Homo sapiens: one gene and its partners. The protein of the gene in region 2 interacts with the protein of the main gene of each other region in a pairwise test. Each region holds a gene or a part of one and is shown on either strand. Other genes may lie near its edges. The genes, in order: STYX, LMTK2, PPM1F and TPTE2.

Evidence for each region.
Region 1: the proteins of LMTK2 (region 2) and STYX interact in a two-hybrid assay, tested with the Homo sapiens proteins (one study listed by BioGRID and IntAct).
Region 3: the proteins of LMTK2 (region 2) and PPM1F interact in a two-hybrid assay, tested with the Homo sapiens proteins (one study listed by BioGRID and IntAct).
Region 4: the proteins of LMTK2 (region 2) and TPTE2 interact in a two-hybrid assay, tested with the Homo sapiens proteins (one study listed by BioGRID and IntAct).

Annotation. Positions count from the first base shown.
Region 1 is NC_000014.9:52,766,701-52,775,675, forward strand, and holds the end of STYX (serine/threonine/tyrosine-interacting protein), read left to right. Parts: intron 1-2,139; coding exon 2,140-2,233; intron 2,234-4,332; coding exon 4,333-4,406; 3' UTR 4,407-8,289; downstream 8,290-8,975. UniProt on the Homo sapiens protein: Catalytically inactive phosphatase. Acts as a nuclear anchor for MAPK1/MAPK3 (ERK1/ERK2). Modulates cell-fate decisions and cell migration by spatiotemporal regulation of MAPK1/MAPK3 (ERK1/ERK2).
Region 2 is NC_000007.14:98,199,820-98,208,794, forward strand, and holds part of LMTK2 (serine/threonine-protein kinase LMTK2 precursor), read left to right. Parts: intron 1-3,754; coding exon 3,755-3,887; intron 3,888-4,124; coding exon 4,125-4,367; intron 4,368-5,644; coding exon 5,645-5,673; 3' UTR 5,674-8,975. UniProt on the Homo sapiens protein: Phosphorylates PPP1C, phosphorylase b and CFTR.
Region 3 is NC_000022.11:21,927,972-21,936,946, forward strand, and holds part of PPM1F (protein phosphatase 1F), read right to left. Parts: intron 6,256-8,975; coding exon 6,053-6,255; intron 5,609-6,052; coding exon 5,420-5,608; intron 3,321-5,419; coding exon 3,177-3,320; intron 1-3,176. UniProt on the Homo sapiens protein: Dephosphorylates and concomitantly deactivates CaM-kinase II activated upon autophosphorylation, and CaM-kinases IV and I activated upon phosphorylation by CaM-kinase kinase. Promotes apoptosis.
Region 4 is NC_000013.11:19,422,377-19,425,532, forward strand, and holds the end of TPTE2 (phosphatidylinositol 3,4,5-trisphosphate 3-phosphatase TPTE2), read right to left. Parts: intron 2,642-3,156; coding exon 2,571-2,641; intron 789-2,570; coding exon 686-788; 3' UTR 501-685; downstream 1-500. UniProt on the Homo sapiens protein: Acts as a lipid phosphatase, removing the phosphate in the D3 position of the inositol ring from phosphatidylinositol 3,4,5-trisphosphate.

The DNA of each region.
Region 1 (8,975 bases), on a different chromosome or scaffold from region 2:
AAAGTTGTCTTCTATTGTGTATTTACCCTTTTGGTTGTTCTGTTTCTTTTTCTTTTTAGTATACCCCTTACCCCGGTATAGTTTATGTTCCCTTTTTTCTTTGTTATTTGCTATTTTCTCTGTAATTATTTGCAGCTTTGTTCTTTTTTTTTTTTCCACTTGATTTTTCTCACGTTTGTTTTCCATGTCCCATGCTGCATTGTTTCATTAAATATTTATTTGGCATTGTTTTAGTTAGGCACTGACAGTAAAGCAGAGAACAAAACAGACAATAATCCTTGACCTCACGAAACTTATTTAGTGGGAGAATCAGACAACAAACAAAATGTAGTAGGCCAGAAGTAATGAATCCAAGAAAAATAAGGCCATGTAAGGAAGGTGGGACGAGAATTGTATTTTTAGAAGGGTGGTCAGAAATGGGCTTACTGAAAAGTGATATTTGAGCAAAGACCTAAAGAGATGCACGTATTTGGGGAAAAGCATTTGAGGTAGAGGAATAAGTGTAAGTGGTTTGAGGTGGGAGCATAGTTCTTAGAAGGATACTCATTTCATCATAGGGCCAGTCCTCTCATGACCTCATCCCAACTTAATCACCTGCCAAAGTCCCCACATTAAGTGTTTGGACTTCAACATATGAATTATGAGGGGAATGCAAACATTCAATCCCATAACTGCCATATTTTCTTTGATTAATTTGTTCATAGTTTTCATCTGCTTCATGGTATAAGTTTTATGGCATTTTCTTTATGACATTTGGTTATACTCTTGCTTTTCTGTTTTTGTTTTGTTTTGTTTTGTTTTTTCTTGCAAAATCTTTGAGTAAGACCTAACTGGTTCCTTCTTGATTATTGGTCATCTTTGAACTGGAGGTATTCGTCTTAGATCAGCTATTTACCCAAGAATAAAATTGTGGGAAAGGGGCCAGAGGAGTGGTTGGGGAAGGCTGACAGCTTGAATTTTCCCAGGTTCCTTTGGTGGCATGAATCAGTGAGTAAGAAGCAGAGCTCCTTATATCACAGGTTTATTTTGTTTAAATTGATAAACACTGATTCATATTAGAATCACCTGGGGAATCCTTACCCATGCCAATGAAATCAAAATCTGTGAGAGTGGGGCCTAGGTATATAGGTTTTAAAGTGCCTCAGGTGATTCTCATGTATATCCAGGCTAGAATTGCTGATTTAGCCTTTACTTTTAGCTATCCAAGATCAACTGATGCTTGGCTACATGCAACCAAATTTCACTTCCGCCTTACCATACTTAAACAGCCTGCTGCTTGCAAAAAATGGCAGGTGTAGGTGTTCACATTTTCCTTAATATGTCCCACCTTCTCCCATAGGCCACTCATATTTCCTGACTTTGTCATACCATGCAAGGGCTTGTTGGTTTTATTTTAGGTCACCTTTTTTAGCGAGCTATGAACTGTACCTACTCTGGCCCACAGAGGAGTTATCTGCTATGCCTAGCTTAGGATGGTTCTATTTTTTTTGAAAATTTTATTGTGAAATTATAATATAGAAAATGCATAAAATGTAAATAAACATCCATGTAACTATTGCCGAAGTATGGAAACAGAATGTTTACCAGGACACCAAAAGCCTTTTTCATGCCGCTTCTCAGGCACAAATCTGTTTCTCCCTCTGTAAAGTAACCACTATCCTGACGTAGCTGGTAATCAATTCCTTTTCCCCTCATTCTTCTCATTTTCAGGGTAATGGATGTTTCCTAGTTTCATCAAATGTTTTCCTTGTTTTCAGAAAAGAGAGAAACAAAAATGCCTTTATTCTTCTATCTATAACTGGAAGCAGAGGACTATTGAGATTGCCAATTTAAGTTTTTGGTGTTTTTTGGGGTTTTTTTAAACAGATGAAGTCAGAGATCATTATAGCTAATGCCATACTGACTGGCAGTTCAGCATGCAGTACCCTAGCACAAACTATTAGCCGGGCTTGATTTATAGTTATCAGTAGTTCTGAATTTATGAGACAGGAATTTTAAACTTCCATTTCTCTTCAAACAATATGGCACTAGATTTTTCAATACAGATGAAGAATACCAACAGTGTATACATTAATCACTATTTTGGGTATCCAAGAATGTAAATATATAATTAAGTTAATTAACTTATTTTTTTTTTAGGAATATGAAGCCATCTACCTAGCAAAATTAACAATACAGATGATGTCACCACTCCAGATAGAAAGGTCATTATCTGTTCATTCTGGTACCACAGGTAAGGATTTTTTTCTTTTTGGAGAAATTTGGGAAGAAAGATAATGAAAGGTGGAGAACTTGCTACAAGTTACACTGAACAATTTAAATTGTTTAGAAAACTTGTTAAACTATTGAGCTAATTCCAGAAGGATTCATTTTATAATGAATAAATGTGTACTATAATAAGCTTAAGTCTTTCAAGTAGTAGTACATCCGTGTTGTAAAGATTAAAATAATACGAATCTGGAGAAGGGGCCCTAAACACGCTTAGGTGATCTTATTAAAAGTAGAGGGCGGTTAATACAGCGTGTAGCATGGCTAATGTGAGCTTCTTTCTCTTGCCATCAATATTTCCATCCTTTCCTCCCTCTGTTGCTATTTCAGAAGTACCCTAAGCCCCTTATTTTCAAAGTTAATCCAAGCATGCTCTTAAAATCTTCCTTTCCCAAGACCTTGCTACCTGTGTTTATCACCTTTGTTTCTCTCCCAACAAAGCACACAAGGCATTTTTACTTTATTTCCAGTTTTTCCTACCCTGCAGTTCACTTCAATCTTTGAACCAACAGTTATATAAGGTAGTAAGAACAGCTTATATACTTAGCACTGACCTGGAAATTGAGGACAGGTGATCTGATCCACAAGTATAGAACTCTTTGCACTCTACTGCACTGCCCATAGTGAGTAATATGACTGTATATTCATCCCCAAGGCTCAACTTCCTAATTGTCATTGACTTTTTCATTTCCTTTGCCACATCTGTCTAATAATTGCTCTCCACATCCTATAGGGTCCGTTTTGTCAGTATTGTTAACATTCCTTCCTTTTTTTAATAGTGACCTTAATCTAGTTCAGGTCCGGATTTGCCTCCTTTCCAAACTCTTGTTATTTGGTCTGTTCTGTACATTGTGGCCAGACTTATTCCCATGAAAGATATTTCTAATATTGATATTTTTCCTTTGCCAAAGCCTCCTTTGGCTTCATTCCTACAAAAGTTTATAGAATGCCATATGCCCTTCTGATTTTTTGGTTTCTTTCTCTCATTGTTCTTCTTTATGTCTGCATTTCAGAAAACAACTGCTGATGGTTTCCTGTGTGTGTCTTCTTTTCCCCACCTAAAATGCATCACATTTAGTCTCCCTATTCTTGGTTCATATGTCATCTCCTCAGGAAGACATGATGATTAATGCACTCTTCCTTTAACCCCTAGTCATTTGGAGTTCCCATAGAAGCACAGCACTTCATCTGAAACTTAATCACAGTATCTGGGTTTAGCCTGAGGGCTAGGATATTTTATCTCATTCAATTGTATTGATACTATATTTTTATCTTTATGAATTTTATAGTGAAACATTCTTCAATTAGAATATGCCCTCTGAATTAACATTATTATTACCATGATATAACAGTCCTGTAGGGCATAAGTTTAAGGTCATGCCATTGTTAGGCAAAAAACACAGCAGACCCTCTGCTGGTTTAACTGTTCCCTAAAGTTTTCCTCCATTGAGAGTCTAATTTCTTGATTATAACTTTTGGGGATACAGAGATAGCTTTGATTCTATGTGGGAGATTTCTGTACTAGCAGATGCTGGTATGAAGAATAGATAAAAGAAAATCTCTTTATATGCTACATGCCTTCCTTTCTCCCAACCTAGACTTCGATAGCTTGAGTGGAAAAATATTTTCAGCTGCTCTTCATAACAGCCTCTGTGAAAGCAAAAAGATTATCTACAAAAAATTATACAAATACAAGATTAATTTCCTAAATTTTATGCCCTAAGTCACATGTTTATGGTGCCTAAAAAACAATTAACTTGATAACTAAACATTTATGTATTATCTCTTGAAAAGGTCTATTTTCACACTATTTCAAAAATTATTTATTTTATATGCAATACCTAAGACATAATACTTGAGAAGGAAAATATATCCTGTCATGAAGATTAAAAAGTTATAATATTTAGGTAATTTATCACAAAGGAATTTACTAAATTTTGCTATATCAGTTGTGGAATTTTCATAGTGTATACATGATCACTTAATAACAAAATTTTACTTGCTGTAACCTTTTAACATGAATTTATTTTAGTGCCCTTTTAATCTTCATGCAATAACTTTTAGGCAGTTTGAAGAGAACACATGAAGAAGAGGATGATTTTGGAACCATGCAAGTGGCGACTGCACAGAATGGCTGACTTGAAGAGCAACATCATAGAGTGTGAATTTCTATTTGGGAAGGAGAAAATACAAGAGAAAATTATAATGTAAAATGGTAAAAACATAAGTAGTTTTTTTTTCAATTACATGTTGCTTCCAGACATACTTCTCTGCAACTTGTTGAGCAACATTTTAAGATGTTGGACTTCTGCAATAGATGACACTGATGGTTTTACTCCTTTTTTTAAAAACACATGCGCGCGCACACACACATGCTTTACAAGTTTTATTATAAACCAAGAATTTTGGACTTGCAAAGAGGTATTATTGCAATAATGCACTTTTCATACTTGAAATTTATTTGTATGATATAAAGTTATTACTTTAAACAAAATGCAAGTATGGGGGGATTGTTTATAAAGTTTGGGTAATTTATAACAAAATTTGCTAAGGTTTGCTAAAAATTCATTTTTCTGTTCTATATATTACATTTTTAACATAATTTTACAGTTCAATTTTATGATGGAGCCTCTTACAGAAACATTAACAAAATGCAGGAATCTGCCACATTTCTTTTTTAGTATAACTTAATAGCTTAATTACCATTTTATTTTTTATACTTCTTCCATTATTAATCTTTAAATCATGATCCTAATTAGCTGTCCTTACTTTAACTTGATCTAATTATTGCTTCCTTTCTTATTACTTTCCTAATTTTTCTATATTTTAAAAACTACAGTTTCCATGATAAAAGGAAAACGTTTTGATTTATAGTACCAAGTGCTTAAACACAAGGATAGTGTTAGATTTTCGAGTGACTTTCCTTTTTGCATTTTTTGGCAGTAAAAGCCAAACGTTGTATTTGTTCTTTTCAGAGTTGTCCAGCCCTTTTTTCCTTTGTCCAAAATGATTCTAAATAGAATCTAATAAACCAATGTAGCATTATTTTTTTCTAAATGAAGCCCCAAAAAAGAAAAGTGCCTTGCATCATTTAAAAAAAATAATTAAATCCTCATGGCCTCTAAATTAGTATGTAGAACACTGAAAAGTTCTTAACATTTTTGTGTAATTTCCTTTCTTTTTAAACCATAAATTAGTTTAAACTGAAAGTACGAGGCTGGAAGAAATATTAGTAAATTATTTGGAATATAGAATGTTTACTCTTTCTTTTTATGTTGTCTTAATGATTCTGTGAGATTGTTCCGGCTCAAACAGAAGCTTTTCTTTGGGGAAGGTGATTTGTGGGAGACTAGTGTATTTTAAATTAGCATTTTAATCCATTCTTGACATTCAGTTAGTCCAGATCTGCCCCATAATTTGCTTTAGTAAAGTCACTTTATGGATTTTTGGCTATGTTTTAGTTTGTGTGTATAAAAGTTCTAAGAAAACATTTTTGCTATTTTAAGTATGTAAGGGAAGAGAGGAGTGTTTTTAACTTTTTATAGTTGATGACTTTAGGGTAGCACAAACAAAACTCCTTTGTATCTAACTTTTCTCAATCCTCTCTTGAGGTGCTTTACTAATGGGAATGATTTCTGTATGTTCCCTTGGTACCAAGAGGTACTATGCAAAGTAACCTATTACACCAAGTTACTTGCTTTGCTTTCCTCTCTATGATGTGATAATACAGTAAAAGCTTTCTTACCCAGCATAGTGGGAGAGTGGAGATTAATTAAAATTGTTAATTAAGAGTTAATTCCTATTGACCCAGGTGATATTTCTCTTCTGATTTCCCTCCCCTTCCCTTCTCTTATCTTACCACTGTGAAAACAGCATATTGTTAATCTCGTTGTCGTCCAGTATTCTGCTTTGTGATTAGGTCTTTTGATGTACAGTGGTCTAGTGGAGTCAAGATTCGCATTGGGTTTTCTAAAATTCCAGTTGATAAAAGTTCCAGATAACACAGCTTTCCTGTATATAGATCACTATTGGGCAGGTCAGCAAAGATCTCTTACAGTGTAATAATAATCTATGATGCTTCATTTAGCAGAAACTCTGCTTAAAAGAATCTTCATAATAGTAAGTTTAGGTTTTAAAAACTTGTTTCATAAATATACATATATCCTCTCTAGTAGTCTGGCCAAAAGAACAGATTTTGTTATTGATAATTTGTAGCTGGTAATTTTCCACATTTTCTATCCACTGTAATTTTTATGTTGTCACTGAAGTGCCTGCCCAGTACTGTATATTACAGTCTCTCACAAACACTGGGAAAAGGGACTGTCATCATCTTGAGTACTCTGTGTGTATATATATATATATAGATAGATAGATTTTTTTTTTTTTTTGAGACAGAGTCTCTAATGTCACCCAGGCTGGAGTACAGTGGCACAATCTTGGCTCACTGCAACCTCCACCTCCTGGGTTCAAGTGATTTTCCTGCCTCAGCCTCCCAAGTAGCTGGGGTTAGAGGCACATGCCACCATGCCTGGCTAATTTTTGTAGTTTTAGTAGAGATGGGGTTTCACCATGTTGGCCAGGCTGGTCTCAAACTCCTGACCTCAAGTGATCCACCCACCTCGGCCTCCCAAAGTGCTGGGATTACAGGCGTGAGCCACTGCGCCTGGCTGAGTACAATATTAATGTAGACAAACCATGAAGTTTATTATTTCATATAAGAACATTACAGGTTTGTTTTTTCTTGCATGTCTGTCCACCTAATGTTTAAGTAGTTCTGGTAGCTCTTCCTATTCTTTATTCTATTTGATTCCATTTCTGTGATTCTTTTATTACCACTGATGTTTTGTGATAGTTAACTATGATAAATTTAACTGATCATGATTTATCTTCTAGAGTATTTAAATAATGTATGAGTGACCACCCAATTCCAACATTAAAAGTGTAATCTGGGCCCATAATTTATAGTGAAATTGTATCAAAACATAGGGAAACTGTATTACTGTCCATTTTGAAAATATGAAACTTGAGTATTGAAAATATTCAAACATGGAATGGCAGTATTCTAATTTCAGTTAGTTGGTTCATGTTAATTTCTTACCTGTTAGATGTTTAAACTGCAGTGACCTTTACTTGTATCTACTCTGTGGTGGAAATGTTAAACCATGATAGCTTTTGCTACCAACTCAACCACTTAACTTTTAGAGCAGTTTTGGGGAGAGTTTATGCTTCATCTGAGTTTAGAAGTAATGTCAGAAAATGTTAAGCATGTCTGTATTAAGAAAATATAAGGTTTCTAATTGTCTTATTAATATGGTAATTCAAGTGAATTAGAAATATTTAACTGCAATCTTGAATTATAAAGTTGAGATATATATATATATGTATCAAGATCTCAACTTGATGTAAAGTAAATGAGCAGTTACCTGGCGGATTTTTTTTTTTTTAAATAACTGATTTAATCCATAATCCCATAACAAACATAGCTTCACCTCAGTATTTTCTTTCTTTCTTTGTTCAACAGTGCTCCGATAAGGGAATGCTAGAAAATAGATGAGAAGTACTGAAAGACCTTTTTTTTTAATTGATTAGAAAAGTAAGTCTCTAGGGTCTTTGAATGCTGGAATTTTTTTTTTTTTTTTTGTCTTTCCCATCTGTGGCAGCTAAAACAAAAATCACTCAAAATATTCAGGTTTACATGTTAGCTCTCTCTCATAGGGAGCTGCCATACCTCACAGTTCAAAGTGTATTCTATAGATCAGTAACATTATACTGACATGTAATTGCAATTTACTATGCAGCAAAAATGATTCAAGAAGAAAAATAACCTACAGTGTCTGTATACCTTTGTATACACAATTGCTTAAGTTACTCTGCTTTTAACATTTGTACTTGGATAAAATGCTTATGTCTGTATAGGAATGTCACAGTGCAAGATGCTGCTAGCCCAGGCACAAAGTATTAAAATTATTTTGTGAAGATTGGTGGTTGTATTAAAACTGCTGTGCCATTATACCTCCAAAATATTGAAAAGCTCATTCATACTGCTGCTTATACCTCAAAACTTCTTTACTTAGATTGTTATCTGCTGGGTAAAAGTAACCCAAATTTACTCTGAGTTAAGAAGAGTGGATGAACATTGAATGTTGAGAAGCACTTAAGAGTATACTCTAAAACACTGTGGTTACACACACACACAAAATTATGGTCTGTAGTCCAGGCAAGCCTCAAATTCCAGCTCAAGTTTATTTTTAAGGATTAGTTGAGCAAGTTTGGAGTTGGAAGTGAGAGAATCGTGTTTAAAGGAAAGGGTAGGTCATCCACAGAACAGCTTTCAGTCATTACAAAAAAAAAATACTTCTTGCTTTTATATTACCATCTTCCCCCATTAGGCCTACCTGCATACTGTGCTTCATCAAATCTAAGATCACCTCACAACTATACCATTATTTTAGGCACCACTAAAAGACAGTGTATTGCTAACAAAACTATGATAAACCATTGATAATATATCCAGATTTCAGAGATGTTACAGTGCATCTTAGTTGATGAAACAAAAATATACAAAACATGAGACACAGTAAAAATGATAAGTACCACCTCATTATACCTTTTCACAAGCAAATAGTGGCCAAAGATGTGAACGGCCAGACACGGTAGCCGACATATGTAATCCCAGATACTCTGGAGGCTGAGGCAGAGGATCACTT
Region 2 (8,975 bases):
GGTGTATCTTTTGCATCCTTTTACTTTTAATCTACCTGTATCATTATATTTGACATGAGTTTCTTGCAGATCTTATAGTTAGATGGGGTTTTTAAAACTCTGTTCTGAAAAATCTGCCTTTTAATGGTATGTTTAGATCATTTACCTTTAATAAAATTATTGATATTTTGGATTTACGTATACCATTTTATTTGTTCTATTTTTATTTCTATTCTTCCTCTTTTTAATAAATTGAACATTTTTAGTATTACATTTTTCTTTTTCTTTTTTTTTACACTGTTCTCTTTGCGTAGTTTTTGTAGTGGTTGTTCTGGGGGTTACAATGTATGTATTAAACTTCTCACAATCTACTTAGAATCTGTATTTGCATATTTCAGATGGAATGTGGAAACCCTACTGTCACTTAGGCCTTTTGCCCTCCGTCCCCTTCTTGACATGCTCTTCTATGTTGCATACATGTACACTGATAACTCCTCAGACAGTGCAACACATTTGACTTTCTGTCATCAAACACATTCTAAGAAACTCAAGAGGAAATGAATAGTATTATACAGTTGGCCCTGGAGCAACATGGGTTTGAACTGTGTGAGTGTACTTATAACATGGCTTCTTTTCAACCCAAAACAGATCGAAAGCACAGTATTCTCGGGATGTAGAACCTGTGTATAGATACGGAGGGCTGACTTTTTGTATATGTGGGTTCCGCAAGGCTAACCACAGGACTTAGTATGCACAGGTGTGGTTATGCACGGGTGGTCTTGTCACTGATCTCTGTTCAGATCGTTTCTGGAGTTGTCCCTTGGTTTCCAAGAAGTGGTGGTTCCATAATTTGGATACCATAATTAGAGGCTGCCCAAGTGCTTTATATGAAATGGCATCATATTTGCATATAACCTACACACATCCTCCTGCAGACTTTCAGTCATCTCTAGATTACTTATAATGCCTCATACACTGTAAATGCTATGAAAATAGTTGTTATACTGTATTATTTATTTTGTTGTTGTTGTTGTTGTTGTTATACTGTTATTTCTTATTTGTGGTTGTTTCTGAATGTTTTCTGTCCTGGTTGGTTGACTCTGAGGATGTGGAACTCTCTGATCTGGAGGGCCTCCTGTCCTTCTGTTCTTTTTCATTATTGATGTTCTAGGTTTCCTTCTGGAACCCTTTCCCTTCTAATTAAAGAAATTTAACTAGCTTTTCTTTTCTCTCTTTTTTTTAAAAACCCATTTTTTTGCAGGATTCCTTTTATTTTTAAATAAATTCTCTTAGTTTTTTTTTCCATCTAAGACTATTTCACACTCATTCCTGAAGCCTGTTTTCTCTGAGTGTAGAATTCTGTGTTGATAATTGTTTTCTTTCAGCATTTTAAAAATGTATCCCTTCCTTCCACCCTCCACGGTCTCTCATGAGAAATTTGCAGTCACTCAGATCATTCTTCTCCTAGAAGTACAAGTGGAGCGTCCCTTATCTGAAATGCTTAGGACCAGAAGCATTTTAAATTTCTGATTTTTTCAGATTTTGGAATATTTGCATTATACTCACCAGTTCAGCATCCCAAATCTGAAAATTTGAAATCCCAAGTGCTCCAGTGAACACTTTGGGCGTCATGTCAGCGCTCAAAAGGTTTTGGATTTTGGAGCATTTTGGATTTTTGGTTTTCCGATTTGGGATGCTCAAGCTGTAATACATGTTTTATCCCTGGCTGCTTTCAAATCTTTGTCTTTAGCTTTCAGCAGTTTGATTATGGTGCATCTGAGGGTGGATTTCTTCGTGTGTGTGTTTTGTTTTGTTTTGTTTTGTTTTGTTTGAGACAGAGTCTTGCTCTGTCACTAGCTGGAGTACAGTGGCACGATCATAGGTCACTGCACCCTTGAACTCCTGGGCTCCAGTGATCCTCCCTCCTCAGCCTCCTGAGTAGCTGGGGCTACAGGCGTGCACCACCACGCCTAGCTAATTTTTAAATTGTTTGTAGAGACAGCATCTCACTGTGTTGCCCAGGCTGGTTTTGAACTCCTGGCCTCAAGGGATCCTCCTGCTTCAGCCACCCAAAGTGCTGGGATCACAGTTGTGAGCCACCCCACCTGGCCCAATTTCTTTGTATTTATCCCGTTTTTGTTTTGCTAAACTTAAATCTGTAGTTTTGTATCTTTCACCAAATTTAAGAAGTTTTCAGGCATTCTTTTCTTCTAGTACTTTTTCTGCCCCACGCCCTGTCTCCTCTCTTCCTGGGACTCCAGGGTTAGACCCTGTGTATTCTCTCATAGGTTCTGAGGCTCTGGTCCTTTCTTCCTCCAGGTTTTTTTTTTCTTGCTCTTGTTTGGATTGGGTGATTTCTGTTGCTCTGTCTTCAAGGTCCCTGATGATTTCCTTCGTCATCTCCATTATGCTGTTGAGCCCATCCATTGAATTGCTAGATTTTGGTTATTATACTTTTCTTTTCTGAGTTTTGCTTTTTGTCATTCTTCTTATCATCTGTTCCTTTGCTAAGATTTTCCCTATTTCTGTTCATGGTAAGAGTGTTTCCCCTTAGTTGTAGGAGCATTTTTATAATAGTCCTTTTTCAGATAATTCCAACATCTGTGGTACGGTGACACTGGCACCTGTTGATTGTCTTTTCCCAGGTAAATTGAGGTGTTCCTGGTTTTTGTATGTGAAGTAATTTTAGCTTTTGGATCCTCCTATCATGTTAGGCAGTCTGTGCCATGTGTAAATGCTGTGAATCATGTTGATACTTTTACCTTAGCAGGCCTTGACCCGGTGGGTGCAGGCCACAAGCTCCAAGCAGCCTTCTGTGGGTTGTGGTTTCAGTGTCAGCTCCCAGTTCCCCTTTCAAAGCCTTCGCTGTGCTGTTTGAACCTGCCCCACGTGTGTGCCCCGCACCCCACCCCGGTCTCCCCTGAGGTTCATTTTCAAAGCTTGGGTGTGTTCAGAGTCAGATCTACCACACACAGCCCAGGAGCCCCCCAGCAACTTCATCGGGTCACCTTTTTGAGCTCCTCCCTCTTCTGTGATGTCCCTGATACTTGCAGTTCTTTGGGCCTCTGCTTTCTGGTCCCCTAGCTAGAAAGTTGAGGCTTTAGTTACACGATGTGCCATACTTCCTGCAATCGCACGCGCATCTGGAGCCAAGCAGTGGGAGGACAGAAGGGAAAAAAACTCAGCGAGGGTCCCCTCCCGCTCGTGATCACAGTCCTCCAGTGGAGAGGAGGCTTCATGGCCCTCAGGATTATAGGCAGCTGTTGCCCCAGGATTGCTTGAGACTGGAGAGCAAGAGAACAGAGAAAAGAAGAAAGCTGGAATTCCCCCTTCTCTTTCTGAGCATCAGAAGACCCCCTTCCTGCTCCGAAGCCAGAACCAAGGGCTTCTCCTGGAGCACTGTGTCCAGGGCAGTGCCCACTTTGGATTCCGGGCTGACCTGAGTCCAGGCGGGGGATTGTGGAGGAGAAGCCGACACACTTGTTGCTGGTGGGTGGCACCTTGAGCACTGCCGCTCGTGCCCGCCTGCCTGCTGCTCTGCGCTTCTCTGCAGCCTCAGAGGGCTGCTTCATGCCTCTGCCGAGGTCAGAGCTGCAGGCAGAGGGAGAGACAGGGCCTAGTGTCTGTCCGTCCTCCCAGGCCTGGAGCCGCCCTTGTCTTGAGACGCTTACTTCTCAGTCGATGAGTCTGATGCGCCTGCCAGTGGGGAAGCGGTCACACGGGGGGTTCCCGTGAGCAGGCCTTTGCTGACAGGAGTTTCTGTTTGACTTTTCAGGAGACCCCAACCAAAGAGCTGGGGCCCTGTGGAGGAGAGGCGTGCGGCCCGGACCTGAGCGGCCCAGCCCCAGCCTCAGGCTCTCCCTACCTGAGCAGGTGCATCAACTCCGAAAGCTCCACCGACGAAGAAGGTATTTCACGTCATTGTCTAGTTTTAAAGGAAACTGAAAAATTGAGTAATGTAAAGGTTTTTTGAGGGTAACTTCCCATGTTGCTTTAATGACGCCCCCTGACATGGGCACAGAACTGCCATCTGCCAGCCGGGCCGGGCTGTGTCTTCCGACCTGCAGGGCGCACCTGCCCAGAGGCTCCCCCTCTCCCTCATCACGCAGTGATAAAAAGGGTGGGGTTTTATTTTTTATTTCTAGGTGGTGGCTTTGAGTGGGATGATGACTTCTCCCCAGATCCTTTTATGTCAAAGACAACAAGTAACCTGCTCAGCTCCAAGCCTTCTCTCCAAACATCCAAGTACTTTTCTCCGCCGCCACCGGCCCGGAGCACGGAGCAGAGCTGGCCGCACTCGGCGCCTTACTCCCGGTTCTCCATCTCTCCCGCCAACATTGCCAGCTTTTCCCTCACACACCTGACCGACTCGGACATCGAGCAGGGCGGTGAGAGGCGCTGCGTGCTGGGGATTGGGAGTGCAGGGTCGGGGGTGGGGCGCTGCAGCTGGGAGATGGTGGTTTTGCAGGCCTGATAATCTCATGTCTTCTTCACATTTGCTGAGTAGATTACAAACTTGTTTTTATAAAACTCCCATCATCAGCTGGGTGCAGTGACTCCTGCCTGTAATCCCAGCTACTCAGGAGGCTGAGGTGGGAGGATCAGTTGAGCCTGGGAGTGTGAGACCAGCCTGGGCAACATAGTGAGACCCCATCTCTAAAAAAAATAAAAACTAAAAAATTAGCTGGATGTGGTGGTGTGCACCTGCACTTCAGCTACTCAGGAGGCTGAGGTGGGAGGAATGCTTGAGCCCAGGAGTTCAAGGCTACAGTGACCTATGATTGTGCCACTGCCCTCCAGCATGGGTGACAGAGCAAGACCCTGCCTCTAAAATAAATAAATAAAACTGCCAGCATCCTGAGTGTGCTCTCGGGGCCATGCCCCCTGCCTGTTGTGGTCACTCTCAGGCTCGTTACCGGCCACCCTGTGGGGCCAGGCTGAGGCAGAGGGGCTCTGGGTCCCAGGAACGCCCAGGCTGCGCGCCATCTCCTCTTTTTCTCCTGTGGCTGCATAGTCCCTCCTCCGCACTCTGTCTCCTCCTTTCCCAGAGAGAACCTGCTCTTCAGCAGGCTCGTAAGAGCACTTGACCCCTGGACTTGGGACCAGCCCACATGCCCTCTGGTGCTGCCCCTGGAATGTTGGTTTTGCTGCTGAGTCTTGGTCCTGGTGTGGCTCCCGAGGGCGGGGTGGGGTGAATGGGCAGGGGCCATTTGAAGTCGAGGTATCTGAACATAGGGAGCCTTCTTTCCCCGTCACTAGATTGAAAGATAAAGGTTAATAGGCTCATTTTTTGATTGGAAGTTTACAGATCAAATAATAAATATGGAATACAAAGAGGCTTTATTTCCCTCGGCGCTAGGCTTCATTTGTGCCGATTAGATAACACCTGCTATCTGCCAGTCTGTCGGGGCAGATGTGTGGATCCCAGCTGACTTCTTCTGCACCCTGACCCTTAGCGCCCAGCGGGCATTTGAGCCTAGCAGATGTGGGAGAGTCAGGCAGGGGCTGCTTCCGAAGGAAAGGACAGGAAGGGCGGCTCAGGCGGTGCTGGGCTCAAAACACCCGCTTCCGTTCCTGTGGTGCAGCGCACATGCCATCCACGCCATGCCTGTCTGATCATTTTAAAAACCCAGCTTTGTCGTCTCGCTTCCTCTCTCCTCAACAGGAAGCAGCGAAGACGGAGAAAAGGACTAGGTGGCTGCCAACGCGCACGCTCGGGTCCGAGGCTGCTCCCCTGGAGCGGCGCCCCTGCGCCCTCAGCCCGAGCAGCGACATCCACTCGCCATTTGCTGACATGAGATTGGGAGGAAGAATCCAGAGGTGAAGAGGGAGACGGCTCTTAGCTGCGTTCAAGGCGGGGCCCTCGGGAGCCCAGGTGCAGAGCGAGGCCGTGTCCAGGAGCCGGCGTCCCTCAGTGCCCCGTGCACCCGCGGCCGCGGCCTCCCAGGCAGTGCTCATGCGCTGGCCGTCGGGGGAGGCAGGGGCACAGCCTCCATGTGCGCGCGCGTGTGGAGCTGTGTGCACCGCATGTGTGCTTTCCACAGGGGCGTCTCTGCGTCCACGCCTGCACATCCCGGCGCACGTGTGGGCACCACAGAGGACACGTGAGGGGAATGGTCACCAGTGAGCCATATTTATTATTTCTAGAGAAATCACGAACTGCTTTCTGTAATTGCACTGTGGATAAATGTTCCGAGAGTCTCCATTGTTGTACAGGATCTTCAGTTATTCGAGGGGAATGAGGCAGGTCAAGCCGATGCTAGCCACTAGTTTGATTTTTTTTCTGTTTTATAGTTTGCGCTGCATGGTACTTGTGAAGCTTAAATATTTTGAGTGTTCTACTGTGTCTAGGATTGTTGGGATTGTACATATGGTACTCTTTCATAAATGATAAATGATTCTGAATGTTAGTGTTTTATGTTCATATAGGAAATATTTTCATTGAGTCCAAAATACCACTGTTTTGTTGATGGACTTGAATGCATTTTTGTCTCTTCTTGATGAAGCGGCTTTGCCGCAGCAAATGAGGCTTCTCTCTGAGGAGCTGAGAGGTCTTGCAGCCTCTCCTTGTCATTCTCCCACCCCACATCCCATTTTTTAAAGCCCTTTTGGTAAAAACCAACAGGTTGTGGCCGCAGACCTCAGATGGACCCGGCCCATCCCTGGGGACGTGCTGGCGTGGCAGGTCCAGAGAGCTGCACCCTGCACGGGGCACCGCACCGCTTCCCTCCGCGCAGCTCTTCTGCCTGGTTTTCGGAGGCCAGGCTGCTGGGAAGCTTCCGTGTTCCTGTCAGTCCTTCCTTCAAGAAGCCGGGGAACTCAGGCAGACTCATCTCCGCAGAGCATACCAGCCGTGGGGGACCGTTCGACTTGATGATGTGTGCACACTTCAGGTGGTGGGGACTTGAGCTTTAAAAAAACCTCCACAGCCGAATCTTCTCCTCCGAGCCACTCCACGTCACGTCCAGCTGGGCCTGGCCAGTCTGTGGTTATCCATGTGGGATGAGATAACACCACATCCTGCAGCTGTGAAGGGGGATGGACAAGGGACGACGGCCGACGGCAGAGCATCAGCAGCCGACACATAGTTCGGGTCGGGGCCTTGGGTGGTCCTGCATGGCCCGGGACTCATCTCACGGACCCTCCGTTCTGCATTAAGCCCCAGGTTCTCTTCTGGCTTTGAAAGGGCCCGAGTGCTCCCAGTGTAGCTTCGTCACATCGTCACGAGCCCCTGTGGTCATGGGCGACCTCACACCTCCCTCCCTGAGTTCTGCTCTGACATAAGGAAGTCCTCGGTGGCTGGTGCAGCGCGGCTGTGCTGTGCTGGGGAGGCAGCCGTTCCTTCGGGGGTCCTTGGGCCTGCAGTCCCCTCATACTCACCCTTCACCCAACATATTTTCCGGTGCTGATATGTTTCCAGACTCCAGCGCAACCTGGGGTGCTCTCCAGACCCGTGCAGGGGCCGCCTGGGGTACACGGAAGGAAGTTGAGTCCTAGTGCAAAATGCAGGCGGACGTTGCCAGAGAGTGCGCAGCAAATGACCTTCATTGCCAGTTCCACCCTACTCCTCTCATTTTTTATACTAAGCAATAACTTTCCAAAGCAAGAAGTTCAGGATGGAGAGAGTCCCCTCCTGTGTAGGCATGGGGTGGATGCGGTGCCCACCTGGGCTATGTGGGGAGCACCACTGTCTCGGGATGCGCGAATTTTTTTTTTTTTTTTAATTAACAGGGCATTAGAAGATGATTTTGCCAAAATTGTCATGACTCTGAATTCTTGCTGTGGGGACTTCCTGAGTTTTCTCAGTTTTTACATCTAAGATTAGTCTTGGCTGAAGAGAAATGAGACGTGATTATACTACTTTTTCAATTGCAGGTTTAAGGAGTTCAGATTTAATGACCAAAGTCATACAGATCATGGAATCTGTCGTCGTCTTATACAGTGTCAGCCTCGAGTACATTTATTAACCTTTTGGGGCTGTCAGTTTTCCACTAGGATTAAGATTTTGGCCGGGCGCGGTGGCTCACGCCTGCAATCCCAACACATTGGGGGGTCGAGGCGGACGGATCACTTTGAGCCCAGGAGTTCAAGACCAGCCTGGGCAACATGGCGAAACCTCGTCTCTACTAAAAATACAAAATATATATATATATATATATACTAGCTGGGGCACATAGTGGTGTGCACCTGTAGTCCCAGCTGCTTGGGAGGCTGAGGTGGGAGGATGGCTAGAGCCCAGGAGATGGGTGTTGCAGTGAGCTGAGACCATGCCACTGTACTCTAGCCTGGGTAACAGCCAGACCCTGTCTCAAAAAAAAAAACAATTTTTTTCATAACATAATTCCCATTTTTATTTATTTTGAGTCACTCATAATTAATTGCCAAAAAAGCATTTTATACATTGAGTTGGGGGGTAGTGGATCTTAGTGTGGTGTTGCATGGAGGGGCGAGATTTTATATTTATAATCAACACGTGGGTTAACATGTTTTTTTGAAATCCAAGCAATACACAGGAAATTTAAGTAGAATAAAAATTGCAGCCCATTTTTGAAATGTCAGCATGTGCTGTGTTCAGTTCAGGTTTTTGTTGTTTGTTTTGTTATTTTTTAACTAATAAGTTGGTTATCAGTGGTGGGTTTTCAAAATGTACTTGTTCTAATAAGTTGTACAATGAACTAAATCAGTGGCATTCTCTAGATAATGTGGGGGAAGGTTAGAATATTTTCTGGCCTTCTATGGGGTAGCAACCCAGAATCAATCTGAATTAGTCCTGTTTTGGTGGAGTTTGTACATTTTAAATCCTATAACAAAAATAATCTAGTTTTCATTTCCTTACTAGCTAGATGCGAATTTGTCTTTTTGAATGACCCTGTCAATAAGCCAGAAAGGGCAACCCAGAAAAAGTGCTCCCCACATCCTTCTGAGACTTGGCCTGTGTGTGTGGACGAGAAGCCATTCACCGTAAGGGTGCAGAAAGCTCGACCAAGCCGAATTGC
Region 3 (8,975 bases), on a different chromosome or scaffold from region 2:
GAGACAGGGTCTTGCTTTGTTGCCAAGGCTGGAGTGCAGTGTCATGAACATAGCTCACTGCAGCCTCGACCTCTAGGGCTCAAGCCATCTCCTGCCTTCGCCTCCCGACTGCCCAGCGCCCACCCCCTCAGCAGCTCTTCCCTCTGCTCCTCAAACCTCATCCTCTCCACCTGCCTGAAACAGCTTCCCAGGTCAAAGCTGGAGCCGGTGGCCTGTGGGTTCCTGTGAACAGCCATTTCCTGCTTCCTAGGAGTGCAGTGCTCCACACGGCCAGGCCGCAGCAGCGTCGCCTATGGCACTGCCATCCTCCTGGATGCCCAAGGCCCTCTGCGATGTCTCCACCTGCAGAGCCGGGACTCCTATCTCTCCCAGGCTGCCTGCCAGGCGTGCCAGCGTGACCTGTGACCTTGAGTGACTCTCACTGCCCTCCTGAACTCACTTTTGTGACCCAGCCCTCAACTTGTCCTCCAGTGGCCTGATCACTTCAGAAGCTTCTAGTGAGTCCTTACAGAGTTCCTCCCAGCCTGGGGCAGTCCAGCTTTTCCAGCTGAAGGAGCAGCAGGTGGGTGGTCTTCTCCCCTGCCCCGAGTCTTCTACCCACTGATTCTGGGGCTTGTTTTTGTTTTTTGAAGACAGGGTCTCACTCTGTTGCCAAGGCTGGAGTGCAGTGTCATGAACATAGCTCACTGCAGCCTCAACCTCTAGGGCTCAAGCCATCCTCCTGTCTCCTGAGGCTTGAGAGGTGGGAGGATCACTTGGGGCACACCTCCACACCTGGCCCTGATTCTGGCATAACCTGCCCTTTCCTCCTGGTCTCTCCCCTGGCCTGCAGGAATTGCAACTGCCTGAGATGCGGCTCCATTCCATTCATCTCTCTGCCTCATCCTGCCAGGTCCTTGCCCTCCTCCTGCTCCCCCATTAGACTTAGAGGCAGGAAGTGGGTCCTGTGTTATCTCACTGCCTCAACAAAGTATCTTGTGCAGAGTGGGCACTCAGTGTTTGGAGGCTGAACTGAGTGCAGAGGCAGGAGACTGTTCAGACAGCCGCAGAACAAGGCAGAGCACCACGCACTCCCCCCACGTACTCCTGGAAGCTGCTCTGGGCCGCTGCTGGACCCCCGTTGAAGCTCGCCAAGTTGAGGCCAGTTTCTTGCTCTTGTAACCGACATGATGCTTGTTTTTGTGGGAGAACCTTGGCCTGGATCTGTGATTAATTCTCTAGGGTGGAAGGCTGTGATCAGGATCACAGCAGGAGGGGCCAAGCCTACAGAGCATGGCGGCAGGAAAGGGGAGGTGGGGGGCACTGGATCTGAACTCCTTGGCCCATGCGGGCTGCAGCCAAGAACACAGACACCTGTGTGTGCTTCTCTTGTGCAAGCTCTGATCTCTGTGCTCCACATGCACTGGGACACTCAATCCTTACCCCAAACCTCCAGGGACCCCTGTGTGATGGACTTGGAAGCGGTGGAGCCGGGACCAGGCAAGGCCATCTGTCCATGCTCTGCCACGACGCCATACTGCAGGACTCAGGCAGTGTTTGAACAGAGCCCCCACTGGGCTTTAATGGGGTGCTGAATGCTGAGCCTGTAGGTGTGCAGGCAGCAGGTGGGAGTGGGCCCAGCACGAATCCTGACTTGGCCACATTTCATCTGACTGCATATCCTGGGGAGGAGAGCCCACTAGGGAGCAGGTGCCAAATTCCCCCACGGTGGTGGAGGCAGGGGAGTGGCAGAGACTATCTGTGACTTTGGCGGTGTGCTCTGGGCAAGTGACTGAGCCTCAGTTTTCTCCTCTGTACAATGGGGAGAGGACGTACAGGGGGCCCATACCAGACCGTGAGCCGCAGTGAAAGGCCAAGGAATGTAGCTGCCCCTGACTGTTACAATCATCAAGTCCTGGTGTCTCTATGTGCTTTCCAAACCAGAAGCCACAAAAAGACTACTCAACTACAGAAAAACACAAAGCCTCCATGTGGCAAAAGCCCATAAACAAAAATAAAAGATGCATGGAAAAACATTTGCAAATCATCACAGACAAGGAACCAACCTCCTTCACATATACAAGGAACCTATAAACTGATAAGAAAAACAGGCAAAGGAAAAAAACAGTGTTTGCAGGAAAGGCTGTGTAAATGATCTTCAGCTTTTGAAAACACGCTCAAACTCACTCTGTAACAGAAAAGCAAACTTAACAATTGCCCCAAGACAGGCTTCTTACCTGACAGGAAGAATCCTGCAGCCTGGTGAGACTGTGGGGAAATGGACCTTCTTGGGAATGTAGTGCCAGCCCAGGCTGGCATGGCCTGAGGTGGGAAGCTTGGCAAATCTACCCAGACTGTACGTGCATCAGTTCCAACCTAGCCATCCCACTTCTGGGGATGTGTCCTACAGATATAGGTACACTTGACTCTGAGCAATTAATGCTGCACAAAGTAGGTAGAGATGCATTGTTTTTAGCACCGAAAGACTGAAAAGATCTTCATGCTCACCCACAAGGGACTGCATGATGAATGCAATGTCCGCAGCCCCAAGAAAGGATGGGTGCTCCTATGTGCTGACGTAGAATTATCCACCATGTGCATGGTTAATCAAACATAGCTGGTGGAGAACAGCACGTGGGAAAAGTGGGGTTTGAGGGATAAACAGTCATTCCATGATATCTGAATGCTCGCAATCCAACCTCAGGAGACACATGGATGAGACAGTCTTCTGAGAAGAGGTCTGAGTGGGACTGTCATCCTCATGTCCAGGTGATGACCTGAGTGCCAGGGTCCCAGGCAGCCTCTAGTCAGTACAGCCCCAAGCCAGGTTCCCTCCAGCCTCGGGGCAGCATCACCTCCCTGAGGCCTTCCTCACCCACAGCCTGTGGCCTCCTTGTCCGTGTGTATGATGGGCTCTGGTCTGCACTGGGCTGCACTGACTGCACTGGGATGCCTGTCAGTGCAGAGGGCTCTGCTCTCCCCCGGAGCTCTGGGCTCCATATAGCTGTGACCCACAGAGCTCTCAGGAAGGGCTCACGTGGGACCCCCGGCCACTCAAATCAGGCAGGGAGCCCTCCCTCTTGAAAGGTGCCAGGATTACTACTACCTGAAGTTCCCAGGCTGGGTGGGGTTCCCCTATGGGCCCAGCATGATGGAGGCCAGGAATATCCTGGGCCTGGGCGCAGGGATCCCCTTACCTGCCGTTCTGGTCTGTGTGGCTCCATCAGCTTCACCACCTGTCCCTGCTGTACCAAAATGACCTGGGAATCCCCGAGCCAGGCGACGTGCAGGGTCGCTCCTGCAATGAGCGCACACACACCTGTGGTGCCGCTCTGCAGCCGCTGCAGGGAGAGAGGGCCCATGAGAGTTGAGAGGAGGTAGGGAAGGGCAGAGGATGACACGGGGCAGGATGAAGCTTCCGGGGGTGATGAATACTTCCGTTACTGTGGTGAGGAATCCACAGGTGTATATGTGTATAAGCCAAAACTTGCCAAATTGTGGACTTCAAATATGCACCACTTACTACCTGTCAATTGTATCTCAATAAAGATGTTTATTTATTTATTTATTTATTTATTTAGAGACAGAGTCTTGCTCTGTCATTCAGGCTGGGCTGCAGTGGCACAATCTCGGCTCAGTGCAACCTCCGCCTCCCGGGTTCAAGTGATTCTCCTGCCTCAGCCTCCCAAGTAGCTAAGATTACAGGCGTACAGCACCACGCCTGGCTAATTTTTTGTGTTTTTAGTAGAGACGGGGTTTTGCCATGTTTCTTTCCCAGGCTGGTCTTGAACTCCTGAGCTCAGGCAATCTGCCTGCCTTGGCCTCCCAAAGTGCTAGGATTACAGGCGTGAGTCACTGCGCCTGGCTATTTATTTATTTAGAGGCAAAATCTTGCTCTGTCACCCAGGCTGGAGTGCAGTGGCACAGTCTCAGCTCACTGCAACTTCCATCTCCTGGGCTCAAGTGATTCTCATGCCTCAGCCTCCCAAGTAGCTGGGACTATAGGCGCGTGCCACCATACCTGGCTAATTTTTTTTTTTAATTTTTAGTAGAGGCAGGGTTTCACCATGTTGGCCAGGCTGGTCTCAAACTCCTGACCTCAAGTGATCCACCCACCTCAGCCTCCCAAAGTGCTGGGATTACAGGCATGAGCCACCGCGCCTGGCCAATTTTTGTATTTTTAGTAGAGACGAGGTTTCACCATGTTGGCCAGGCTGGTCTCGAATTCCTAACCTGAAGTGATCCGCCGGCCTCTGCCTCCCAAAGTGCCGGGATTACAGGCGTGAGCCACTGTGCCCAGCCTCAATAAAGCAGTTACGCCTGCTTCAGAGAATCCCTTTTCTACTCTGAGGCTGCCTTGAGCTCAGAGGCCTTTGTCACTTCCTGGGGCTGAGGTGAGAGGCCAGGAGTGGAGGCTTGCCTGCTTTTCACTGGGGTCCTTGCAGCTGCAGAGATTGCATGGTTTTCTATTGAGATGCAAAGCCTGGCTCTGCTAATTTCCATGAAGGTCTGTGCTCAGAGCGTGTGACAAAAGTGCACCTTTCCCCTGGTGTCTTCTCACTGGGGCGGGTCTTTTAAGCAACCTGAGCCTCAGTTTCCCAATGTCTAAAATGGGTACAATATTAGTATTCACCTCACAGGGCTACAAGGAGGACCTAGTGAAATTCTGTGGGTGAGGTTCAGAGTGGCTAAGTTCACAGAGGAGGGGCCTGATGCATTTGTATTCTTTCTTCTTTCAGAAACAAATGCCTCATCCCTGCACATGGCTATAACTCCCGAGGAAGGATTGTTCCCAGAGGACGTCGGTAGCCTGCTGAGACCCTGCCTAGAGGAGGAAGGGGAGGAAGGCAGTAGATTAATCAGGTTTTACATATTCCGCCTTTTATGATGCTTTGACAACTTGGGGCCTTGCTGGTCCTGGAGGGGCTGCCCCTTCCCAGGCCAGCTGATTCCTCGAGACAGCAAATACCTGGGGAGGATGCAGAGACGGCTCTGGCCCAGCTTCCCTCTCTTCTCTCTGCGCCCCGACTACCTCAGTGCTTTCCATGCATGGCTCTGTGAGGCGTGGCCCCTCCTCTCAGGAACTGTGAGTAGTAGACTCTTTGTTAAGGTCCTGGTCTGTGTCTGTCACCTTGCCATATCTCATTAAAACAAAATCCCAGGAACGCTTGACCACAGCTGCCTTCCCCGAGGCCAGCAGACCCTCTGCGCCAGGCAGGTCTGTGTGGCTGAGAGGCCCACCATGCTGGGTCGGGGCAGGCTTTGTGCTGCTTCCGTTCAAGTGAAAACCAAGCCCCTTTAGAAAAAATGGCAGGACCACCGGCAGTGTTTAGTGAGGACCTTCCAGCACCACCAGCCCCTTTGGCGTTTTTCCCGCTGCAGAGGCTGGGACTCTCACTGGCCTCCAAACTGCACCTGAGGCCCAGCGGCCAGTCCTCACCTCTCGCTTGGCTTTCCTGAGAAACATCTGGTCGGTGCGCCGGAAGGCTTCTCTGAGGGCTCCCTCAGGGTCTGTGGGCAGCTCTGGCTGGCGGGCAGCGTTGGTGTGCACGTGGACAGCGGCGTACCTCGCAGCATCCACGCCTCCGTGACCATCAAACACAGCAAAGTAGGCGCGGTTCACAGGGTCCTGGTGGGGATGTGGTGGGAGTCACAGACCCGCGGGACCCAGGGTGCTCCCAGTGGGGCGTGGCGCCAGGCACTGATGGGGTAGAGTCTGGGAGAATCAGTATGGCCTTCGCCCGGCTTATGTGCGTATGAGGGGGTAGGTTTGGAAAAGGACAGCTCGCGGGAGCCTCGGTTTCACCATCTGTTATGAGTTGCTACAAGCATAAAATGAGGGGCTGCCCCAGGTGGCTCCTGGTGCAGGAGTCAGGGGAACGTGGCATCCAGGCCTCCCTCATAACAGACTCACACTGTTGCCCTTCTTAGTCTCTTGCTGGGCAAGTACAGGGGCTGACGGGTGTCTCTCCTGTCTCAGCCTTGGTGGGCAGCTCTTCTCGGTACCTGGGGGGCCCCCACCCTCGCCCCGGTCCTCCGAAGCTGTCCCCAGGGTCTGGACGGGAGCACTCACAGACAAGCCGAAGAGCTGGTTGAAGGAAGGGAGGGACACGTGCCGGTCCTCCATCTTGCGGCGAGTGTTCCGGATGGCGTGGATGGAGACCAGCCACTGCCGCTGTGAGGCCCGGGCAGCCAATGGCACCTGCTTCTGCCACTGGCCGGCGACTTCCCAAAGGCGGTTAAAGAAACTCTGTGCCAGGCTTTGGGCATCCAGCACTGATGGGCACAATGGAGGGATTGTCAGGGAAGTGCCAACCAAGCCAGCTGAGGCCTCGCTGGCTCCCTGACAGCTCCCACAGGGGCCTGCAAAGCCCCCATCACCTCCCGGGGCATTGTGAGCACATCAACTCAATAACGCGCACATGGCAGCCTGTTACCAGAATTAGAAATGTCTAGTTTGGCAACTTGCCCCTTGAAGTCTCCCATCCCACCATGGAGCAACTCTACTCATGGGAACCCACCCTGAAGAAATCATCAGAAACACAAAAATAATTTTAAAGACAAAGTACAGAATCACTTATAATTGCCCATTAATTAGAAATACTATATATCCAATGACAAAGGAATAATACTTAAATTATGATCTAGTCTCGGCCAGGCGCAGTGGCTCACGCCTGTAATCCCAGCACTTTGGGAGGCCGAGGTGGGCGGATCACCCGAGGTCAGGAGTTCGAGACCAGCCTAGCCAACATGGTGAAACCCCGTCTCTACTAAAAATACACAAATTAGCCAGGCATGGTGGCGGGCGCCTGTAATCCCAGCTACTCGGGAGGCTGAGGCAGGAGAATCGCTTGAACCTGGGAGGCGGAGGTTGCAGTGAGCCGAGATCATGCCATTATGCTCCAGTCTGGGCGACAGAGCAAGACTCTGTCTCAAAAAAAAAAAAAAAAAAAAAAGATCTAGTCTCTTGATGAAGAATTAAGCTGCTATTAAATATGATTTTCATAACGAAATATGCAACTCCCATACGACCCCACCGTGGCACTCCTGTGGACTTATCCCAGAACAATGAAGGCTGTTCACATAAAAGCTTGAACACATGAACACAAATGTTCATAGCAGCTTTATCTGGAACAGCCAAAATCTGGAGTCAGCCTAGATGTCCTTCAACGTGGAAATGGTTAAACAAACCGTGGTCGACCCATACCTTTGAATACCACTCAAGAATGGCAAAGAATGAACTCCTGATGCATCAAACAACCTGGGCTAATCTCCAGAGAATTAAACCAGTCCCCTAAAGTTACACATCATATGCTTCCATTTATATGTGTTCTTGAAATAATAAAATGGTAGAAGCCGAGAAGATTAGTAGTTGCCAGTGGTTAGGGATGGGGTCTGTAGGGGTGGGGGTATAAGGGTGGCCTTAAAAGGGTGACAGGAGGGATCCTGGTGATGGAACTGCTCTGTATTTTGACCATGTTAGGATCCTGGTGGTGATATTTTATTATAGTTTTGCAAAATGTTACCATTGGAGGAAACTGGGTAAAGTATACATGGAATCTCTTTGTATTATTTATTACAACTGCATGTGCAGCTATGATTATCTCAAAACAAAAAGTTTAATTAAAAAAAACTAGCCCAGGCATAGTGGCTCATGCCTGTAATCCCAGCACTTTGAGAGGCTGAGGTGGGAGGACTGCTTGAGGTCAGGAGTTCAAGACCAGCCTGGATAACATAAAGAGACCTTGTCTCTTAAAAACAAACAGGCTGGGCGCCATGGCTCATGCCTGTAGTCCCGCGCTTTGAGAGGTAAAGGCAGGCAGATCACTTGAGGTCCGGAGTTCGAGACCACCCTGACCAACAAAGTGAAACCCCGTCTCTACTAAAAATACAAAAATTAGCTGGGCGTGCTGGCATGCACATGTAGTCCCAGCTACTTGGGAGGCTGAGGCAGGAAAATTGCTTGAATCCGGGAGGCAGAGGTTGCAGTGAGCCAAGATTGAGCCACTACACTCCAGCCTGGACAACAGAGCGAAACTCAGTCGCAAATGAACAACACCAAACCAAAAAAAATTAGCTGTGTGTGGTGGTATATCTACTCCCAGCTATTCGGGAGGCTGGGGCAGGAGGATCCCTTGAGCCAAGGACGTCGAGGTTACGGCGATCTCCGATTACACCACTGCATTCCAGTCTGGGTGACAGAGGGAGACCTGGTCTCTTAAAACAGAAAACTAAAAAATGGATTTTAATAGAGTTTATAAGCATGTAAAATGCTTCTGTCATGATACTAAGTGAAAAAAGAAGGAAAATTACATATGCAGTTTAACTACAAGTCCATGAAAAACCACCAGGGCCAGAAAAAAAAAAAGGCGGGAACAGCACACAACCAAGGTGTCAGAGTGGGCCTGCACGTGGCAGTTCCACGGACAGCTTTTTCCTGAAGTACACTTTCTTAATACTTCCCCAGTTTTTCATTACAAGTGTTAGTCTCGTGTGACAGTGGCTTTAAAGCATGTCCACAAATTCTTTGACTTCCCCTTTTGCGAGGTGGAGCTCACTTCCCACTGCTGAGTGTGGGAGCTGGCTGCTTCTGATGAAGAGTGGCAGTGACTGCGTGTGCTTCAGGTGTTACGAAACAAAGAGGCCCTGCGCCTCCCGCCTTGTGTATTCTCACTCTCTTCCTCCCTCCCTCTCATCGCTCAATCTGAGCTGTGAGGATGCTCAAGCAGCGCCACGGAGAGTCCACATGGGACGGGACCAGGGCCTCCTGTCAGTGGCCGTGTGTTGAAACCACCGTGGAAGCAGGCCCTCCAGCCCAGCCAGCAACCATGTCACCACAACCCAGTAAGAGACCCTGGACCAGAACCAGCTAAGCTGCTCCCAGATTCCAGACCCACAGAAACTGGGAGAATAAATGTCTGTTGTTTTAAGCCACTACATTTGGGGCAATTTGTTATGTAGCAACAAATAATATAAGCCACAATACTCATTTGAAA
Region 4 (3,156 bases), on a different chromosome or scaffold from region 2:
TACCAAAGATTACTTATCTTCATATTTACCACAGTCTTCTTACCCCAACCCCCATGTCTGTGTGTAATTAAAGGAAGCTTGTCAAGTAAGCTACCTATTTAATGCTCGGAATGAAAGAGAGTGTGTGTTGGGAGTTGGGGAACTGCTTATGTGAAACATTTCTCTCTTCTGGATTTAAAACTTAGTCTTGGTTGCCAATCTGTTAACAGACTGTTTGTAAATGAAGGGGAAGAAAAATATATAAATTAGCTTTCTAATAAATCTGAAATTACAAATGTGAACCAAAGCAGGGAATAAATACTTGACCAAAAATATGTAAGTAAGTGGGTGTTGGGGAATCACAATTTTTAAATATCTCAAGTTTTTGCCATGAAAGTTCTATTTCAAAGTTCTTCAAAATGATGCCTGATGTTCCTGCATACTGTGTTCCAAATTTATGTAAATACAAGATGGAAAGTGTGTGAAGTATGTGCCTTCAAAAAAGAAGAAAAACACTGACATTTTATCTATATATATTTAATAGATTTATGAAGAACATATATAAACATATATAAATATAGATGCATCATCAAGGAAGACTTAGGACACATGAACATGTGGCAGGGGTTGGAAAGAACATAATTCTTTCCCAGAAGGGGAAGGGGGAGCTATACTTAGTCGGATCCAGCTACAACATCATTGGAAGTCATTTCTCGCCAAAAAGTATCTCCACAGCAAATTCTGGTGGATAAATTTTCCATGCTTTTTGTTTATGTGGATTATCCAATTCATTTCTTGGTAGACAAAGCCTAAGAATAGAAAAAAAAAATTACATTTTATATTGGGGCTCACCAAAAAGCCACGCAGTTGGGTACCCACGTTAGAGCTGGAAGAAACAAAAAAAAACCTCACCATGAATAGAACCCCAGACCCTTTTTTGCATTTCAGTTGGCTCCTTCCACCTTTTTAGTGAGACTTAAAAATACTTTAATCTTCAGCAACACATCAGTAACACATGCTGACTCTCTTAGCATTGCTTTATATGGAATTAATGACATCCAAGTTTAATAAAATATCTAAATTTCTCTCTGTGACAGAAATCAGTCAGGATAGACATGAATGAAAACCCAGGAATAAAATACTATATCTCTTTTAATTTATGTGTGAAGTTGCAATTTTTTGAATTTTTACAATCAGACCTTGGAAATGACCTTGAGCAGTAGGCTATAACTCCCATATGCTTAGCGTTCCAATAATGGAACACTAGGCATAAATTGGTTAACCCATTTATGCCTGGTGTTCTAAATGATAGAAGTTAGCATTTTTGGCTAAACAACAATCTCATAACTAACAAAAACAGCTTTACCAAGTAGTATGTAAATTTAAATGTTACAGAAATCTTTAGAAATTTATATAAAAGTAAGAATAAAAGTGATCTAGCTTATCACTTCTCCAAAATGAACGCAGTGTTTTAAAGGAAAAAAACGGTATCCTTTAGCAAGAACCACTTTTGAGGAGCAGCATCAAATGAAGCTCCACCCAGGTCTCACTTTTTGAGGGACTTTGCTCATGTTAGAAGAAAAAGCTTATTGTTTGTATGCATCTAAAAAAAATACTTGTAAAAAATTTCCATCAAATCCAAAGTTGACTCTATCAAAATCCATTAAATGTTTTGCATTGCAAGTGTGTAGACCAGAGGTTTAATTTCCTGTTGCCTTGCTGGACTTAAGGAGTTATTCGATCCAGTTCACGTTTGAAGAAAAGATTAGGACTGGATGTAACAATAACTATCAATTCATGCCACATATAATCATAGCCACTTCTTCAACTCTGACCTAAATCATTTAAAAAATATTTTGTCCTTTTGTATTGAAGAGTATGGTTGATACAAAAAAAAATCTCAATTTTTCACCATCACAAAACAAATGCTACTTATAGTGGAGAACTTCTAGACTGAGAAATGTGGTTCCAAATATGGCAGGTTTTTTTGGAACAATAATCTCCAAACCCAATTAGTAATTTTTCAGAAAGTTTTCCCAATTCAGTTATTAGAAAGCCACATTTGAATGGCTATTTAAATAGACTATTACTTAATGATATTTCTTAGCTGTATTCCTTAATACTGTGTCTTGTAACTTCTCCCAGATATAAGTGTGTCCGTCAGCTTTTCAGCTAGCTGAAGCCTCCCTAGGTCCTGCCTTACTTTAGCACAAAAGTTGATGGTGGTTCGTCATTGGTAAATCAGCACCTACTGACAGGGACCTGACATACTGAAGGTGCTGAGCAGACTCATATTGAACTTCTCTGGGAGGAATTTACTACCAAACTTAAGATCTGATGATAATACTTTTGAACTCATAACACAGTCCTATGGCATGGACCCTGAGGATACTGCAACAGTGGGTCTCAAGAACAAATGTATTTTTAAAATAACCAAAGTAAGAGGAGTAAGGCAAGGAAAAATGGTGGCTCAGGGATTTTTTGCTTTCTATAAATTAAGTTTATGACAACCAGCAAAAGACTTGCCATTACACCTTATTTATAGACATTGAAGATTAGGCTGTTTCTATGGGTTTCTATTATATTCATACCTGTTATTTTGAATAAAAGACGTGTTGAACCAGAAGAAAAATGGACAATTGTCATAGTATTTAGGAAGATTCTAAAAAGAAAAAAAATTTCAAAGTAAAACTGACACCAGGAACTAATCATTCCAAAGAAATTAAAGTTCCTTTCTTTATTCCTTTATATATTTATCAAACAATTATAACCATTAAATAGGTAGCACTCTGCAATCTATAACAATACACTCAAGACACAAAGGAGGAGGCTTTAAGAAAATGCTATTGCATTCTCTTGCTGTTTCTATCAAAATTTTCAAGGAATAGTGTTTTTCCCATGATAGGTCTTTAATTTAAATGCTGCTATTTGAATCTGGTTTAGATAGTGCCAAACAGATGCTACTAAGGACCTATGCCTATATATACCCAACTACATTGTAGTGAATTCTTATAATTTTTTTGTTGCCTCAGCATCCCTTTTAATTATAAATTGTATTTTCTGATCTCAGAAGCGGGGTTCAGTCACCCTCAGCAGTTTCCAGTTCACCTCCTCCCAGTTTCTCCATGTGACTGATCCTGATATCTGCCTTATACAACCTTCTCCTGATGACCACTT